2 separate regions of the Homo sapiens genome follow, and region 2 is linked to region 1. The links come from fine-mapping of genetic effects on plasma protein levels. Region 1 holds a variant in brackets. A gene starts in the other region. All regions are shown on their forward strands. Region 1 overlaps TMEM50A (transmembrane protein 50A). Region 2 holds the start of ICAM4 (intercellular adhesion molecule 4 (Landsteiner-Wiener blood group)).

The links. PIP is the chance, under the fine-mapping model, that this variant and not a neighbour inherited with it causes the effect. The UK Biobank Pharma Proteomics Project read protein levels with antibody pairs (Olink). The fine-mapping took linkage between variants from a reference panel, not from the people measured, so its PIPs are less certain.
Region 2: it holds the start of ICAM4, and the variant in region 1 is fine-mapped to the plasma level of the ICAM4 protein (UK Biobank, PIP above 0.99).

Annotation. Positions count from the first base shown.
Region 1 is chr1:25,346,261-25,354,784 of GRCh38, forward strand. TMEM50A (transmembrane protein 50A) reads left to right here. Exons shown (of 7, transcript NM_014313.4): 4 at 5,366-5,433; 5 at 6,622-6,714. It overlaps LOC124904823 (small nucleolar RNA U13), which reads right to left and starts at 117; the gene lies at 14-117. The variant G/A (reference allele first, on the strand shown) is at 4,854.
Region 2 is chr19:10,281,502-10,289,499 of GRCh38, forward strand. It overlaps ICAM4 (intercellular adhesion molecule 4 (Landsteiner-Wiener blood group)), which reads left to right and starts at 5,454. Exons shown (of 3, transcript NM_001544.5): 1 at 5,454-5,905; 2 at 6,035-6,337; 3 at 6,485-7,019. The coding sequence starts at 5,512. The coding sequence ends at 6,603. It overlaps ICAM1 (intercellular adhesion molecule 1), which reads left to right. Exons shown (of 7, transcript NM_000201.3): 3 at 1,980-2,285; 4 at 2,532-2,819; 5 at 2,902-3,156; 6 at 3,282-3,527; 7 at 3,614-5,114. The coding sequence ends at 3,786. LIMASI (lncRNA inflammatory and mucous response associated, antisense to ICAM1) reads right to left here and starts at 1,949. Exons shown (of 4, transcript XR_007067138.1): 1 at 1,820-1,949. ICAM4-AS1 (ICAM4 antisense RNA 1) reads right to left here and starts at 7,518. Exons shown (of 1, transcript NR_186335.1): 1 at 4,300-7,518. RefSeq lists enhancers at 5,022-5,071, 5,126-6,095, 5,442-5,581 and a silencer at 7,306-7,375.

The sequences.
Region 1 (8,524 bases):
TCTTTTCTTTTCATGTTAGACGTGTAAGGTGCTGATGTAAGAACAAGGTTTGAGGGAGGCACATCTCAAACATGCACATGAACACCCAATCATCGTGCCTAAGAACTACAAAAGAATCAGGTTTTCCTTTTAAATTAAAAAAAAAATGTTTTAGAAGTAGGGCCTCGCTTGTCACCCAGGCTGGAGTGCAAATGGTGTGATCATAACACACTACTGTCTCAAAATCCTGGGCTTAAGCAGTCCTCTGGCCTCAGCCTCCCCAGTAGCTAGGACTACTTGCACATACCACCACACCCAGCTATTTTTTAAACAGTTTTTTTGTAAAGACAGGATCTCACTATGTTGCCCAGGCTGTTCTTGAACTCCTGGTCTCAAGTGATTCTCCTGCCTTGGCCTCCGAGAGTGCTGCATGATAGGTGTGAGTCACTGTGCTCTCTGCCTTTATTATTTTAAAAATGTAATATAAAATGCATTCTGGCCAGGCATGGTGGCTCACACTTGTAATCCCAGCACTTTGGGAGGCCAAAGTGGGCGGATCACTTGAGGTCAGGAGTTCAAGACCAGCCTGGCCAACATGGTGAAACCCTGTCTCTACAAAAAAATACAAAAATCAGCCGGGCATGGTGGTGCATGCCTGTGGTCCCAGCTACTGAGGAGGCTGAGGTGGGGAATCACTTGAATCTGAGAGGCAGAGATTACAGTGAGCCAAGATCACGGCACTGGATTCCAGCCCAGGAGACAGAGTGAGACTCTGTCTCAAAACAAACAAACAAACAAAAAACGCATTTAGTGAGATACATAAAGTGCACAAGTCATATATACATCTCAACAAATTTTTCTTATATATACACCCATGTAAACAGCATCTAGATCAAGATTTAAAACATCACCCCAGAACATTCTCAATCAGCACTTCCATCACACCTGTATAGCCCCCATCCTGACCTCTACCATTGTCCATCAGCTTTCTGTAGACCTTTTTTTTTTTCTTTTGAGATAGGCTCTTGCTCTGTTGCCCAGGCTGGAGTGCAGTGGCATGATCTCGGTTCACTGCAACCTCTGCCTCCTGAATTCAAGCAATTTTCCTGCCTCAGCCTCCTGAGTAACTGGGATTACAGACGCCCACCACTGTGCCCAGCTAATTTTTGTATTTTTAGTAGAGGAAGGGTTTCACCATGTTGGCCAGGCTGGTCTCGAACTCCTGACCTCTCAGGTGATCCACCTGCCTTGGCCTCCCAAAGTGCTGGGATGACAAGCGTGAGCCACCATGCCCGGCCTTCTGTAGACTTTTAATTTAGGTTGTAGAGTCATCTCATACAGGCTTCCAGGTAATCCAAGTTGAAAATTACACACATTTTTAAATTTTGCTACAGTTACTTAAGTGTAAACACAGTAACTTGTATTTTCAGAGTAAAGCAAGTGGCTAAGGGCAGCCAGTTTGACTGTGCCTGGCATGGAGTCAGTGCCAGAGTAGTTATTCATTCGCAGAAGTAAAGGTCTGACTTCAGAAGCCACTGATAGCAAAGGGCTGTGGTCTTTTTCTTTGAAGTTCAGCCAGTATGCAGCTATTTCTAGTTCTTTCCATCTTGTTGCAATTTATTTTACCGTAATAATGATGCTGTTAGAATTCTTTTAGAAAGCTGACACCTAAATTTCAACATTGGTTTAGATTTAAAAGTTTTATTTTTGTGATTGTATTTTTGTCCTGCTTTTGTTCTCAGATCTTTAAAAAATTATTTTGTTCCATTTTGAAGCAGTAGCAAGTCTGACTATGGAGGGGAATTATAGCTGTATATGAGCTTGAATGTACTATTCAAACGTGTTTCCTGCTAAACTTACATTCTGTTGCATTAACATAATTATAGCAGAGCTGACTTCATGTCTTTATAAATGTTTATCATCTATTTGGCTTCAGTTTACATCTTTTTATTATAGTGTCAGATAGTGTCAGGCCATAATTTTAAACAAAAACTGTTAGTTAATTATAATTCAAATGGATAGGAGTCAAAAAGCAGCTATTCTTTCATTAATGACTTTATTATTTTTTCTCTTATTACAAAAGTTCTCTGATTTTGTGGCTTTAAAAATATTAATAAATGTTCTGTGTATTACTCTGTATTTTTTAATTTTAAAAATGTAGGGTAGGCCGGGCACGGTGGCTCACGCCTGTAATCCCAGCACTTTGGGAGGCCGAGGTGGAAGGATCTCGAGGTCAGGAGATCGAGACCATCCTGGCCAACATGATGAAGCCCCGTCTCTACTAAAATACAAAAAATTAGCTGGGTGTGGTGACACGCGCCTGTGGTCCTAGCTACTCAGGAGGCTGAGGCAGGGGAATCGCTTGAACCCGGGAGGTGGAGGTTGCAGTGAGCTGAGATTGTGCCACTGCACTCCAGCCTGGCGATAGAGCAAGACTCCATCTCAAAAAAAAAAAAAAGTAGGATATGCCAATAAGCAAAAACGAAGTTGCCTATAATCTCACCAAACTATAACATTTTGACAGATATTCTACCAGTGTTCTCTTCTGTTTTCTCTTTCTCTAACACACATCTATATGTTTTAAAAGTAATATTTAACTCTTCTCCACTTCCTTTCCTCTTCCTGGAAAAATTCAGTCCAAAAACTATTAGGTGAGGTCAAGCATGAGAGGCATCCTCTATAGAAAGACAAGTTGTGGTGGCCCAGAGCAGGCTGCTGGGCTCAGGCAGGGTGGGAAGGGGCAGCTCAGCATGGGCTCAGATCCTGAGCAGGGTGAGGAGGGGATCCATGCAGCGGAGCGTGGGATGGAAGAAGGCAGCCCTACATGGGATGCTGGAGTCTGAGCAGGGTGAAGAGGCTGTCCAGATGGGGCAGGAGAAGCAGTGTGGCAGCTCTGTCCGCTAAGAGTGCCCAGAACAGCTACACCCCAACACCAGGAGCACACCTATAGCCCCCAGTTATGGAGCATCATGTTGACAAATACCAGACGTTTCAGTAAAAAGATTATTTAACTAGTAACTTTTCTATAAATTGGAGAACATACATAAAAATAATCATAGCAGAGAACAAATAGAGATTGTTCATTCCAAAGTGTCCCTAATAGTGAAGACAGGATTGTGGTGGCTCACAGAGGGCTCTGAAGTTTATTCAGATGGCTCAGCAAGGAAAACGAGCTGAGAACCAGTAACCCAAGAACATTTATTTGTGTTTTACTTTTATATATGAAACCTGTTTTTAATGTATCTATTTTATATACAAAATAATTTAGTACTGTACAGAGATCACTGAAAATAATTGAGTATTTTGATCATTCTGAAACTTAGATTTGTATGAATAAATTAAGACATCATATTACTGTGAAAAAAACTAGGATTCCTATATTCACTTTTTTTTTTCATAGATACAAGGTCTTACTATGTTGCCCAGGCTGGTCTCAAAGTCCCGGGCTTAAGCAATCCTCCTACCTTGGCCTTCCAAAGTGCTGAGATTACTGGCACAAGCTACCAGGCCTGACCTAAACACATTTATTGAGCACCTACTATGTGCGAAGCCCCTAGCCTTGTGCTAGGCATTGAGAATGAAAATGAGAAACAAGACAGACAATGGCTCCTGTCCTCATGAAGCTTATATTCTAGTGTTAGACACACACAACTAAATGGGTATATATATCATAGGTATAATGTTTTGTAACTTTAACTTGATGTATTGTGAACGTTTTCCCATGACATTTGGAATGTTTCAAAGGATACTTCTAAAGAAAGCAAGCCTATCTCAATTTAGAGTGGTATGCTATGAAGAGTTAGTAAAACACCTTATGTTTAGAGCCTGTATCAAGGATTTAAAAAACAAGATTTTACCACTTGAATCTCTATTCGATAATATCTTCAGAGCAAAAAGTTATTGTATTGTTTGAAATATAATTATTTCTCCAAACATTTGATATCAGTACAAAATTACTACAAAAAAATTTATTCCAAAGCCAATTTTAAGAAATATTTGGATTATCCAGGGCCCATTTTCTCCCTCTGCCATTGCCATACATGAGTACATGTTATGTCTGATACATACAAATGGAATATCAGATAGAACCAAGCAAAATTATCTTTTTACCTGTTCCAATCTTAGCAAAAGAAAATTTTGAGAATTTTGTTCCCGATTTTTTTTTTAAGAGACGGAGTTTCACTCTTGTCGCCCAGGCTGAATCGCAGTGGCACGATCTGAGCTCACCACAACCTGTTTCCCGGGTTCAAGCAATTCTCCTGCCTCAGCCTCCCAAGTAGCTAGGATTACAGGCATGTGCCACCATGCCCAGCTAATTTTGTATTTTTAGTAGAGACGGGGTTTCTCTGTGTTGGTCAGGCTGGTCTTGAACTCCTCACCTCAGGTGATCCGCCCACCTTGGCCTCCCAAAGTGCTGGGATTATAGGCATGAACCACCACGCCCAGCCTCGTTCCCAAATTTTAACAATCGAGACTCACCTGAAAGACTTGTTAAAACTCAGATTTCTGGGCCCCATGCCCAGAGTGTCTGCTTTGCTAGGTTTGGGTTAGGGCCAAGAGAATTTTCTTGTCAAATAGGTTGCCAAGTAATGCTGATTCCGCTAGCCTGGGGCCCATGACCACTGCTCTAGAGAGTATCTGGCTGGGCGCAGTGGCTCACACCTGTAATCCCAGCACTTTGGGAGGCCGAGGCGGGCGGATCACAAGGTCAGGAGTTCGAGACCATCCTGGCTAACACGGTGAAACCCCATCTCTACTAAAAATACAAAAAAAATTAGCCGGGCATAGGTGGTGCATGCCTGTAGTCCCAACTACTCGGGAGGCTGAGGCAGGAGAATGGCGTAAAACCTGGGAGGCAGAGGTTGCAGTGAGCC[G/A]AGATCGTGCCACTACACTATAGCCTGGGAGACAGAGCGAGACTCCGTCTCAAAAAAAAAAAAAAAAAAGGAGTATCTGGTTGAAGAGACCAGTCATATGAACTCTTTACTCAAGAACTGAAGGCTTATGAGCCAGGTGTAGTGGCACTTTGGGAGGTCAAGGCAAGGAGGATCTCTTGAGGCCAGGAGTTTGAGACCAGCCTGAGCAACATAGCAAGACTTTGTCTCTACAAAAATTTTTAAAAATTAGCTGGGTGTGGTGGTGCACACCTGTAATCCCAGCTACTCAGGAGGCTGAAGTGGGAGGATCACTTGAGCCTGGGATTTCAAGGCTGCAGTAAGCCATGGTTGTGCCACTGCATTCTAGCTTGAGCAACAGAGTGAGACCCTGTATCTTTAAAAAAAAAAAAAAGACTTTCAGGCCTAACCTTACATTTGAGAAACTGTAGATTATTGTTTCTGGTAATTGGTGTCATGGACCCTGATTTCTTGGTTTTATTTTATTCATACAGGATTAATGCAGTATCGAATGGACAAGTCCGAGGTGATAGTTACAGTGAAGGTTGTCTGGGTCAAACAGGTAAATAGGTGCAAACAGCATCTTATTATACATGCTTAAATCCTTAAGATGAGTATTTCACATGGAAATACCACTTTTCTATTTGTTTTAATATATCTGTGAGTAACAGCTTATTATTTTGAATCTATTGTTTTATGTTTTGGGCTTGAAATTGGGAATTAATATATAACATTCTATTTGCCGTGCTTTATTGAGTGTAGGCAGTGTTTTTATTAAAATGTATTTATGCAAATTAAAGAGGCCCTATCAGAATTCATTTTAGGCAGTCATGACTCCATTTATTTATAGCAAATCTTCATAAACATGTTAATGTGATTTGAAAGTTGCCTGTCCTCCTCTGTTAACATAATTTTAATGCAACCTTCCTAAGTTCTAGTCACAGTAAATTTGAATTTATTTTGCTGCCTAACTTCCCTGAAAGTGAAATATGGTAGCTTGGAGATTCGTATGTCACTGAATATGAATTTTTTACTGTATGTCTGTGTTACTGTTTGAAAGTACTCTTGGAAGATCTGGGAGCGGCCGGGCACAGTGGCTCACGGCTGTAATCCCAGCACTTTGAGAGGCCAAGGCAGGCAGATCACAAGGTCAGGAGATCGAGATCATCCTGGCTAACACAGTGAAACCCCGTCTCTACTAAAAATACAAAAAATCAGCTGGGCGTGGTGGCGGGTGCCTGTAGTCCCAGCTACTCTGGAGGCTGAGGCAGGGGAATGGCATGAACCTGGGCGGGTGGAGCTTGCAGTGAGCCGAGATTGCGCCACTGCACTCCAGCCTAGGAGACAGAGCAAGACTCTGCCTCAAAAAAAAAAAAAAAAAAAATGTGGGATCATTGTCTATATAAAAGCATAAGGAGAATGAGCCTCTAAATATGGTGAAACAGATTTTATGAGATGTTTTATAGGAAGGTTGAGTATAGGTTTTCTCAGTGTAGGCAGTTGGGGAAAGTAAGTATATGCACTTATACAGACTCATAAATAATTTTTAAAAATCTATACAGACCAACCAAGAAGAAAAAGGCCAACAGGTACACTGATGAAGATGTTTAACACATCCTTTACTGTTCTCACGTTAGACTTTAATGGCAGTTGCACTTTTTTTTTTTCTGTTTGGGTTTTATTTTCTTTTTGAAAGTTAATTGTACTGCCCTATAAGAAAGAATTCTGGTAAAATATTATTTCTTTGAAGGTGCTCGCATTTGGCTTTTCGTTGGTTTCATGTTGGCCTTTGGATCTCTGATTGCATCTATGTGGATTCTTTTTGGAGGTTATGTTGCTAAAGGTAAGAGAAAACATAGGTTACAATTTACTTCAGTGGAATACTGGAATTTTGCATTAAAGTTGGTTATTTTAGAATAAAATTTTTTTCCTATAGTTGGGCCAACTACTAGCGATGCATTTATATCCGGGACCCCCCACCCTCCACCGACAGTGTTTGGTTTTCTTTGTCTTATATATTTTTAGTATTCCTTTCTTCAGTCATTTTTCTTCTTATCCAGAGCCTGGAAGGGATGAGACAGCTCTAAACACTGCTTTTCTTTGGCTTCCAAAAATCTCAAAAGCAGAACATATGTTATCTAGCTAGTTAGCAAGCTTTGTTTCTTTTTTAGAGACAAGAGTCTCACTATCACCCAGGCTGGAGTGCAATGGCATGATCATGGCCCACTGCAGCCTCAACCTCCTGGGCTCAAGCCATCCTCACACCTCAGCTTCCCAGGTAGCTAGGGCCACAAGCACACACAACCACACCCAGCTAATTTTTAAATTTTTTATAGAGATGGATCTTGCTATGTTGCTAAGGCTGGCCTTGAACTCCTGGCCTCAAGCCTGGCCTAACAAGTTCTGACTTTCAGAATATCTGTGCAAAGCTCTAACATCCCAGAATTGAGATTTATTCAGTTAAGCCTCCCTGGTAATATGATGTCACCTCCTTTCAGACAGAAAAGTAAACTAACATTTAATATACATCTGCTATATAAGGCCACTTTAAGGCAAGCTCAGGAAAAGGTATACTGTTAGACCCTGGGAGAAATTTCACCTTGAGGGACCCTAGAAAAACAGAAAACCCATTTAATGGTCCAGGTAAAATTGCTATGGGTGTCATAGTAAAAATACAGTATTAATGATTTATAAAAACTGGACCAGGTTATATATATTCTGCTCATATTTTAACACTTATTTGAATAAAATGTAACTTGTAGATTAAAATAATGTTTCCTAAATTTTTATTAAAATCATTTAATCTCATAGATGGGAGTAATAGATATTTCCAAATATTTGTATTTTTAATTTTATTTTAATTATTTTTTTTATTTTTTGAGACAGGGTCTGCTCTGTCACCCAGGCTGGAATGCAGTGGCACAATCTCAGCTTACTGCAACCTCCACCTCCCAGGCTCAAGCAATCCTCCCACTCAGCCTCCTGAGTAGCTGAGATGACGGGCGCATGCCACCACGCCCTGCTAGTTTTGTATTTTTTGTAGAGATGGGGCTTCACCATGTTGCCCAGGCTGGTCTCAAACTCCTGGGCTCAAGTGATCTGCCTGCCTCAGCTTCCCAAAGTGCTGGGATTACAGGTGTGAACCACTAGGCCTAGCCATGTGTAATTTATTATTAAAATCATGTTACCAAAATTGTAGAAAATAAAAAAGGGTGGGTGCAGTGTAATCCCAGCACTTCAGGAGGCCAAGGAGGGAGTACTGCATGAGGCCAGGATTTTGAGACCAGCTTGGACAACATAGGGAGACACCATCTCTACAAATAATAAATATTTAGCCGACTATGGTGACGTGCATGTGTGGTCCCAGCTACTCGGGAGACTGACGTGAGAGGATCACCTGAGCCCGGGAGGCAGAGATTGCAGTGAGCTGTGATTGTGCCACTGTACTCCAGCCTGGGTGACAAAGTGAGACGCTGTCTCAAAAAAAGAGAAAAGAAAAGAAAAAAAGAAAAAGAAGTAATAATAATTTCACCACTCTTCAATATTTTGGTTTATTTCCTTTTTTCTTATGTTTTTAGTTATTATCATAATTTTTATCCCCCGTTTGCATTTCACATGATATTATAAGTTAGTTGTTCTTTTGCTGCTATAAA
Region 2 (7,998 bases), not on the chromosome of region 1:
AACCATGACTACAATCTAATTTTAAAATATTTCAATCACTCTAAAAAAGAAACCTCCTGCTTATGTACAGCGACTCTGTCTACCTCTTAAGTGAATTCTCCTACCTTTAATAGCCCTATTTTACAGTTCAGGAAACTGAGGTTCAGAGAGACAAAGTCACTTACCCACAGCAAAGAAGCAAGGCTGGGTATCAAATGCAGGACCCCCCCGGTCCTGATGCTTTTTTTTTTTTTTTTTTTTTCCTCTGAGAGAGACTCTCACTCTGTCACTCAGTCTAGAGTACAGTGGCGCGATCTCAGTTCACTGCAATCTCTGCCTCCTGGGCTGAAGTAATCCTTTCCTCACAAGTAAACCTCAGCCTCTCAAGTAGCTGGGACTACAGGCACACAACACCACGCCTGGCTAATTTTTGTATTTTTAGGTAGAGACGGGGTTTCACTATATTGGCCAGGCTGGTCTTGAACTCCTGACCTCAGGTGATCCGCCTGCCTCGGCCCCCCAAAGTGTTGGGATTACAGGCGTGAGCCACCACACGCAGCCTTTTTGTTATTAGACTCTGTCATTACTGACTTTTTTTTTTTTTTAATAGAAACAGGGTCTTTCTTTCCCAGGCTAAAGTACAGTGGCATGATCACAGTTCACTATAGCCTTAAACTCCTGGGCTCAAGTGATCCTCCTGCCTCAGCCTCCCAAGTAGCAGGGACTACAGGTGTGCACCACCACACCCAGTTAACCATTCATTCATTCATTCATTCATTTATTTTGAGATGGAGTCTCGCTCTGTCACCTAGGCTGGAGTGCAGTGGCACGATCTCAGCTCACTGCAACCTCCACCTCCCAGGTTCAAGAGATTCTCCTGCCTCAGCCTCCCGAGTAGCTGAGACTACAGGCGTGCACCACCATGCCAGACTAATTTTTGTATTTTTAATAGAGACGGGGTTTCACTCTGTTGGTCAGGCTTATCTCGAACTCCTGACTTCGTGGATCCACCCTCCTTGGCCTCCCAAAGTGCTGGGATTAAAGGCGTGAGCCACCGCGCCCTGCCAACCTTTTTTTAATTTTTCTTAGAGATGGGGGTCTCCCTATGTTGCCCAGGCTTGTCTTGAACTCCTGGCCTCAAGTGACCCTCTTGCCTTGGCCTCACAAAGTGCTAGGATTACAGCCTGAGCCATCACACCTGGCCAACAGGTTTTTTTTTTTGTTTTGTTTTGTTTTTTAAAGAATGTCTAGGCCAGGCTCATTTACTTTCACCTGTAATCCCAGCACTTTGGGAGGCCGGGGTGGGCAGATCACTTGAGGTCAGGAATTCGAGACCAGCCTGGGCAACATGCTGAAACCCCGTTTCTACTAAAAATACAAAAATTAGCTGGGTGTGGTGACACGTGCCTGTAATCCCAGCTACTCAGGAGGTTGAGGCAGGAGAATTGCTTGAACCCAGGAGGCAGAGGTTGCAGTGAGCCAAGATCATGCCATCACCCTCCAGCCTGGGCGACAGAAGGAGACTCAGTCTAAAAACTTAATTAATTAATTAATTAAAAATAAAAATACAAAAATTAACCTGGTGTGGTGGTGTGTGCCTGTAATCTAAGCTACTCAGGAGGCTGAGGCAGGAGAATCCCCTGAATCCCAGAGGCAGAGGTTGCAGTGAGCCAAGATCGAGCCACTGTTTGCCCAGTCTAGTGCACTGGGCTGCTGAATTTATTTGACCAGACACCTAGCAATAGACTTTGAAGTTCTTTTCCACTTTTCACTCTAAGATGCTGCTGTCATGAATAAGGAATATTTTGATCCCCTTCACAAACACTCGGGGCCCTCTTACCAGTTTTCACTGAAGATCTTGACATTCCTATCTGCTTAGGTGTCTGGGCGTGTTTGGGGGAGATACTGAAGAGGTAGGGCTCCCAGGCAGGTGCAGTTCGTCTGTTAGGCAGGCAGCAAGGTCCACTTCACCAGACACCCCCACCTCTGTTTTCCTGCAGGGACTCCAGAACGGGTGGAACTGGCACCCCTCCCCTCTTGGCAGCCAGTGGGCAAGAACCTTACCCTACGCTGCCAGGTGGAGGGTGGGGCACCCCGGGCCAACCTCACCGTGGTGCTGCTCCGTGGGGAGAAGGAGCTGAAACGGGAGCCAGCTGTGGGGGAGCCCGCTGAGGTCACGACCACGGTGCTGGTGAGGAGAGATCACCATGGAGCCAATTTCTCGTGCCGCACTGAACTGGACCTGCGGCCCCAAGGGCTGGAGCTGTTTGAGAACACCTCGGCCCCCTACCAGCTCCAGACCTTTGGTGAGGATTGAAGAAGCCAGCAGGGAGAAGGTGGGGGTGGGGTATCCTGCAATGCGGTGCCTGTGGCCACAGGATCTTTTGAGATGGGTGTGGCCCCGGCTAAGGGGTGCATGTGTTCTAGGCGTATGTGACCTAGGCTGCTGAGTGGCCCTGGAAGAGGATCTCGCAGGAGGGGGAATGAAATGCCCCAGAGAAGGGCTTCGGGACGTCCATCCCTGTCTGCTCACACCTTTCTTCTCTCCCTAGTCCTGCCAGCGACTCCCCCACAACTTGTCAGCCCCCGGGTCCTAGAGGTGGACACGCAGGGGACCGTGGTCTGTTCCCTGGACGGGCTGTTCCCAGTCTCGGAGGCCCAGGTCCACCTGGCACTGGGGGACCAGAGGTTGAACCCCACAGTCACCTATGGCAACGACTCCTTCTCGGCCAAGGCCTCAGTCAGTGTGACCGCAGAGGACGAGGGCACCCAGCGGCTGACGTGTGCAGTAATACTGGGGAACCAGAGCCAGGAGACACTGCAGACAGTGACCATCTACAGTAAGAAGGGGCAGGGGCGGAGTGGGGCTTCTTGGGGGTGTGACCTGAACCCGGGGCGGGGCTCACTGTGTGCCTATTCCAGGCTTTCCGGCGCCCAACGTGATTCTGACGAAGCCAGAGGTCTCAGAAGGGACCGAGGTGACAGTGAAGTGTGAGGCCCACCCTAGAGCCAAGGTGACGCTGAATGGGGTTCCAGCCCAGCCACTGGGCCCGAGGGCCCAGCTCCTGCTGAAGGCCACCCCAGAGGACAACGGGCGCAGCTTCTCCTGCTCTGCAACCCTGGAGGTGGCCGGCCAGCTTATACACAAGAACCAGACCCGGGAGCTTCGTGTCCTGTGTGAGTGGGGCTGCTGGTCAATGGCCCCTATCCCCCAAGGCCCAATCTCCCTGAAGGTCCCATAAGGTCTTGCCTCCAAGTCCTGCCCCCACCCACCTCCATGTCATCTCATCGTGTTTTTCCAGATGGCCCCCGACTGGACGAGAGGGATTGTCCGGGAAACTGGACGTGGCCAGAAAATTCCCAGCAGACTCCAATGTGCCAGGCTTGGGGGAACCCATTGCCCGAGCTCAAGTGTCTAAAGGATGGCACTTTCCCACTGCCCATCGGGGAATCAGTGACTGTCACTCGAGATCTTGAGGGCACCTACCTCTGTCGGGCCAGGAGCACTCAAGGGGAGGTCACCCGCAAGGTGACCGTGAATGTGCTCTGTGAGTGAGCCGGCGGGCAGAGCTGGGTGGGGGCAGGGGCCATGGACCTAATGCAATCCTCACCGCCTGTTGTATCCTCCCCACAGCCCCCCGGTATGAGATTGTCATCATCACTGTGGTAGCAGCCGCAGTCATAATGGGCACTGCAGGCCTCAGCACGTACCTCTATAACCGCCAGCGGAAGATCAAGAAATACAGACTACAACAGGCCCAAAAAGGGACCCCCATGAAACCGAACACACAAGCCACGCCTCCCTGAACCTATCCCGGGACAGGGCCTCTTCCTCGGCCTTCCCATATTGGTGGCAGTGGTGCCACACTGAACAGAGTGGAAGACATATGCCATGCAGCTACACCTACCGGCCCTGGGACGCCGGAGGACAGGGCATTGTCCTCAGTCAGATACAACAGCATTTGGGGCCATGGTACCTGCACACCTAAAACACTAGGCCACGCATCTGATCTGTAGTCACATGACTAAGCCAAGAGGAAGGAGCAAGACTCAAGACATGATTGATGGATGTTAAAGTCTAGCCTGATGAGAGGGGAAGTGGTGGGGGAGACATAGCCCCACCATGAGGACATACAACTGGGAAATACTGAAACTTGCTGCCTATTGGGTATGCTGAGGCCCCACAGACTTACAGAAGAAGTGGCCCTCCATAGACATGTGTAGCATCAAAACACAAAGGCCCACACTTCCTGACGGATGCCAGCTTGGGCACTGCTGTCTACTGACCCCAACCCTTGATGATATGTATTTATTCATTTGTTATTTTACCAGCTATTTATTGAGTGTCTTTTATGTAGGCTAAATGAACATAGGTCTCTGGCCTCACGGAGCTCCCAGTCCTAATCACATTCAAGGTCACCAGGTACAGTTGTACAGGTTGTACACTGCAGGAGAGTGCCTGGCAAAAAGATCAAATGGGGCTGGGACTTCTCATTGGCCAACCTGCCTTTCCCCAGAAGGAGTGATTTTTCTATCGGCACAAAAGCACTATATGGACTGGTAATGGTTACAGGTTCAGAGATTACCCAGTGAGGCCTTATTCCTCCCTTCCCCCCAAAACTGACACCTTTGTTAGCCACCTCCCCACCCACATACATTTCTGCCAGTGTTCACAATGACACTCAGCGGTCATGTCTGGACATGAGTGCCCAGGGAATATGCCCAAGCTATGCCTTGTCCTCTTGTCCTGTTTGCATTTCACTGGGAGCTTGCACTATGCAGCTCCAGTTTCCTGCAGTGATCAGGGTCCTGCAAGCAGTGGGGAAGGGGGCCAAGGTATTGGAGGACTCCCTCCCAGCTTTGGAAGCCTCATCCGCGTGTGTGTGTGTGTGTATGTGTAGACAAGCTCTCGCTCTGTCACCCAGGCTGGAGTGCAGTGGTGCAATCATGGTTCACTGCAGTCTTGACCTTTTGGGCTCAAGTGATCCTCCCACCTCAGCCTCCTGAGTAGCTGGGACCATAGGCTCACAACACCACACCTGGCAAATTTGATTTTTTTTTTTTTTCCAGAGACGGGGTCTCGCAACATTGCCCAGACTTCCTTTGTGTTAGTTAATAAAGCTTTCTCAACTGCCTCAGCCTTGTGTGAGTTGAGGGGAGGTGTCACATCCAGCTGGAGTCCTTTCTAAGCAGCCACAGCCTGATCCTCCCACTTCCTCCCCCAAGAAAACATTGTGGGTTGATGGCCATACCCTGAGGTTCTGGTCCAAATCGGACTTTCTATGACCTTCTGGGTCTCTAGTGAAAACTAAAGACTCCTCTCCAGAAAAAAACATTTGGTTTCTAATGAGGCCTGGAATCTTATTCTTGACCTGGGGAGCGGAATCCCTTTTTGCAGTACTCCCGGGCCCTCTGTTGGGGCCTCCCCTTCCTCTCCAGGGTGGAGTCGAGGAGGCGGGGCTGCGGGCCTCCTTATCTCTAGAGCCGGCCCTGGCTCTCTGGCGCGGGGCCCCTTAGTCCGGGCTTTTTGCCATGGGGTCTCTGTTCCCTCTGTCGCTGCTGTTTTTTTTGGCGGCCGCCTACCCGGGAGTTGGGAGCGCGCTGGGACGCCGGACTAAGCGGGCGCAAAGCCCCAAGGGTAGCCCTCTCGCGCCCTCCGGGACCTCAGTGCCCTTCTGGGTGCGCATGAGCCCGGAGTTCGTGGCTGTGCAGCCGGGGAAGTCAGTGCAGCTCAATTGCAGCAACAGCTGTCCCCAGCCGCAGAATTCCAGCCTCCGCACCCCGCTGCGGCAAGGCAAGACGCTCAGAGGGCCGGGTTGGGTGTCTTACCAGCTGCTCGACGTGAGGGCCTGGAGCTCCCTCGCGCACTGCCTCGTGACCTGCGCAGGAAAAACACGCTGGGCCACCTCCAGGATCACCGCCTACAGTGAGGGACAGGGGCTCGGTCCCGGCTGGGGTGAGGGGAGGGGGCTGGAAGAGGTGGGGGAAGGGTAGTTGACAGTCGCTCTATAGGGAGCGCCCGCGGACCTCACTCAGAGGCTCCCCCTTGCCTTAGAACCGCCCCACAGCGTGATTTTGGAGCCTCCGGTCTTAAAGGGCAGGAAATACACTTTGCGCTGCCACGTGACGCAGGTGTTCCCGGTGGGCTACTTGGTGGTGACCCTGAGGCATGGAAGCCGGGTCATCTATTCCGAAAGCCTGGAGCGCTTCACCGGCCTGGATCTGGCCAACGTGACCTTGACCTACGAGTTTGCTGCTGGACCCCGCGACTTCTGGCAGCCCGTGATCTGCCACGCGCGCCTCAATCTCGACGGCCTGGTGGTCCGCAACAGCTCGGCACCCATTACACTGATGCTCGGTGAGGCACCCCTGTAACCCTGGGGACTAGGAGGAAGGGGGCAGAGAGAGTTATGACCCCGAGAGGGCGCACAGACCAAGCGTGAGCTCCACGCGGGTCGACAGACCTCCCTGTGTTCCGTTCCTAATTCTCGCCTTCTGCTCCCAGCTTGGAGCCCCGCGCCCACAGCTTTGGCCTCCGGTTCCATCGCTGCCCTTGTAGGGATCCTCCTCACTGTGGGCGCTGCGTACCTATGCAAGTGCCTAGCTATGAAGTCCCAGGCGTAAAGGGGGATGTTCTATGCCGGCTGAGCGAGAAAAAGAGGAATATGAAACAATCTGGGGAAATGGCCATACATGGTGGCTGACGCCTGTAATCCCAGCACTTTGGGAGGCCGAGGCAGGAGAATCGCTTGAGCCCAGGAGTTCGAGACCAGCCTGGACAACATAGTGAGACCCCGTCTATGCAAAAAATACACAAATTAGCCTGGTGTGGTGGCCCGCACCTGTGGTCCCAGCTACCCGGGAGGCTGAGTTGGGAGGATCCTTTGAGCCCTGAAAGTCGAGGTTGCAGTGAGCCTTGATCGTGCCACTGCACTCCAGCCTGGGGGACAGAGCACGACCCTGTCTCCAAAAATAAAATAAAAATAAAAATAAATATTGGCGGGGGAACCCTCTGGAATCAATAAAGGCTTCCTTAACCAGCCTCTGTCCTGTGACCTAAGGGTCCGCATTACTGCCCTTCTTCGGAGGAACTGGTTTGTTTTTGTTGTTGTTGTTGTTTTTGCGATCACTTTCTCCAAGTTCCTTGTCTCCCTGAGGGCACCTGAGGTTTCCTCACTCAGGGCCCACCTGGGGTCCCGAAGCCCCAGACTCTGTGTATCCCCAGCGGGTGTCACAGAAACCTCTCCTTCTGCTGGCCTTATCGAGTGGGATCAGCGCGGGCCGGGGAGAGCCACGGGCAGGGGCGGGGTGGGGTTCATGGTATGGCTTTCCTGATTGGCGCCGCCGCCACCACGCGGCAGCTCTGATTGGATGTTAAGTTTCCTATCCCAGCCCCACCTTCAGACCCTGTGCTTTCCTGGAGGCCAAACAACTGTGGAGCGAGAACTCATCTCCAAAATAACTTACCACGCTGGAGTGAGACCACGAATGGTGGGGAGGGGAGGGTCCCACGGACATATTGAGGGACGTGGATACGCAGAAGAGGTATCCATGTGGTGGCAGCCGGGAAGGGGTGATCAGATGGTCCACAGGGAATATCACAAACTCGAATTCTGACGATGTTCTGGTAGTCACCCAGCCAGATGAGCGCATGGAGTTGGGGGTGGGGGGTGTCAAAGCTTGGGGCCCGGAAGCGGAGTCAAAAGCATCACCCTCGGTCCCTTGTTCTCGCGTGGATGTCAGGGCCCCCACCCACCGAGCAGAAGGCGGACTCAGGGGCGCTCCAGGGTGGCTCGAGCTCACACACGCTGAGTAGACACGTGCCCGCTGCACCCTGGGTAAATACAGACCCGGAGCCGAGCGGATTCTAATTTAGACGCCCGCGAACGCTGCGCGCACGCACACGTGTCCTCGGCTCGCTGGCACTTTCGTCCCGCCCCCTCCGTCGCGTGCGGGAGCTGACCCGGAGGGGTGCTTAGAGGTATGGCTCCGCGGGGTCAAAAGGAGAAGGATCAGTGA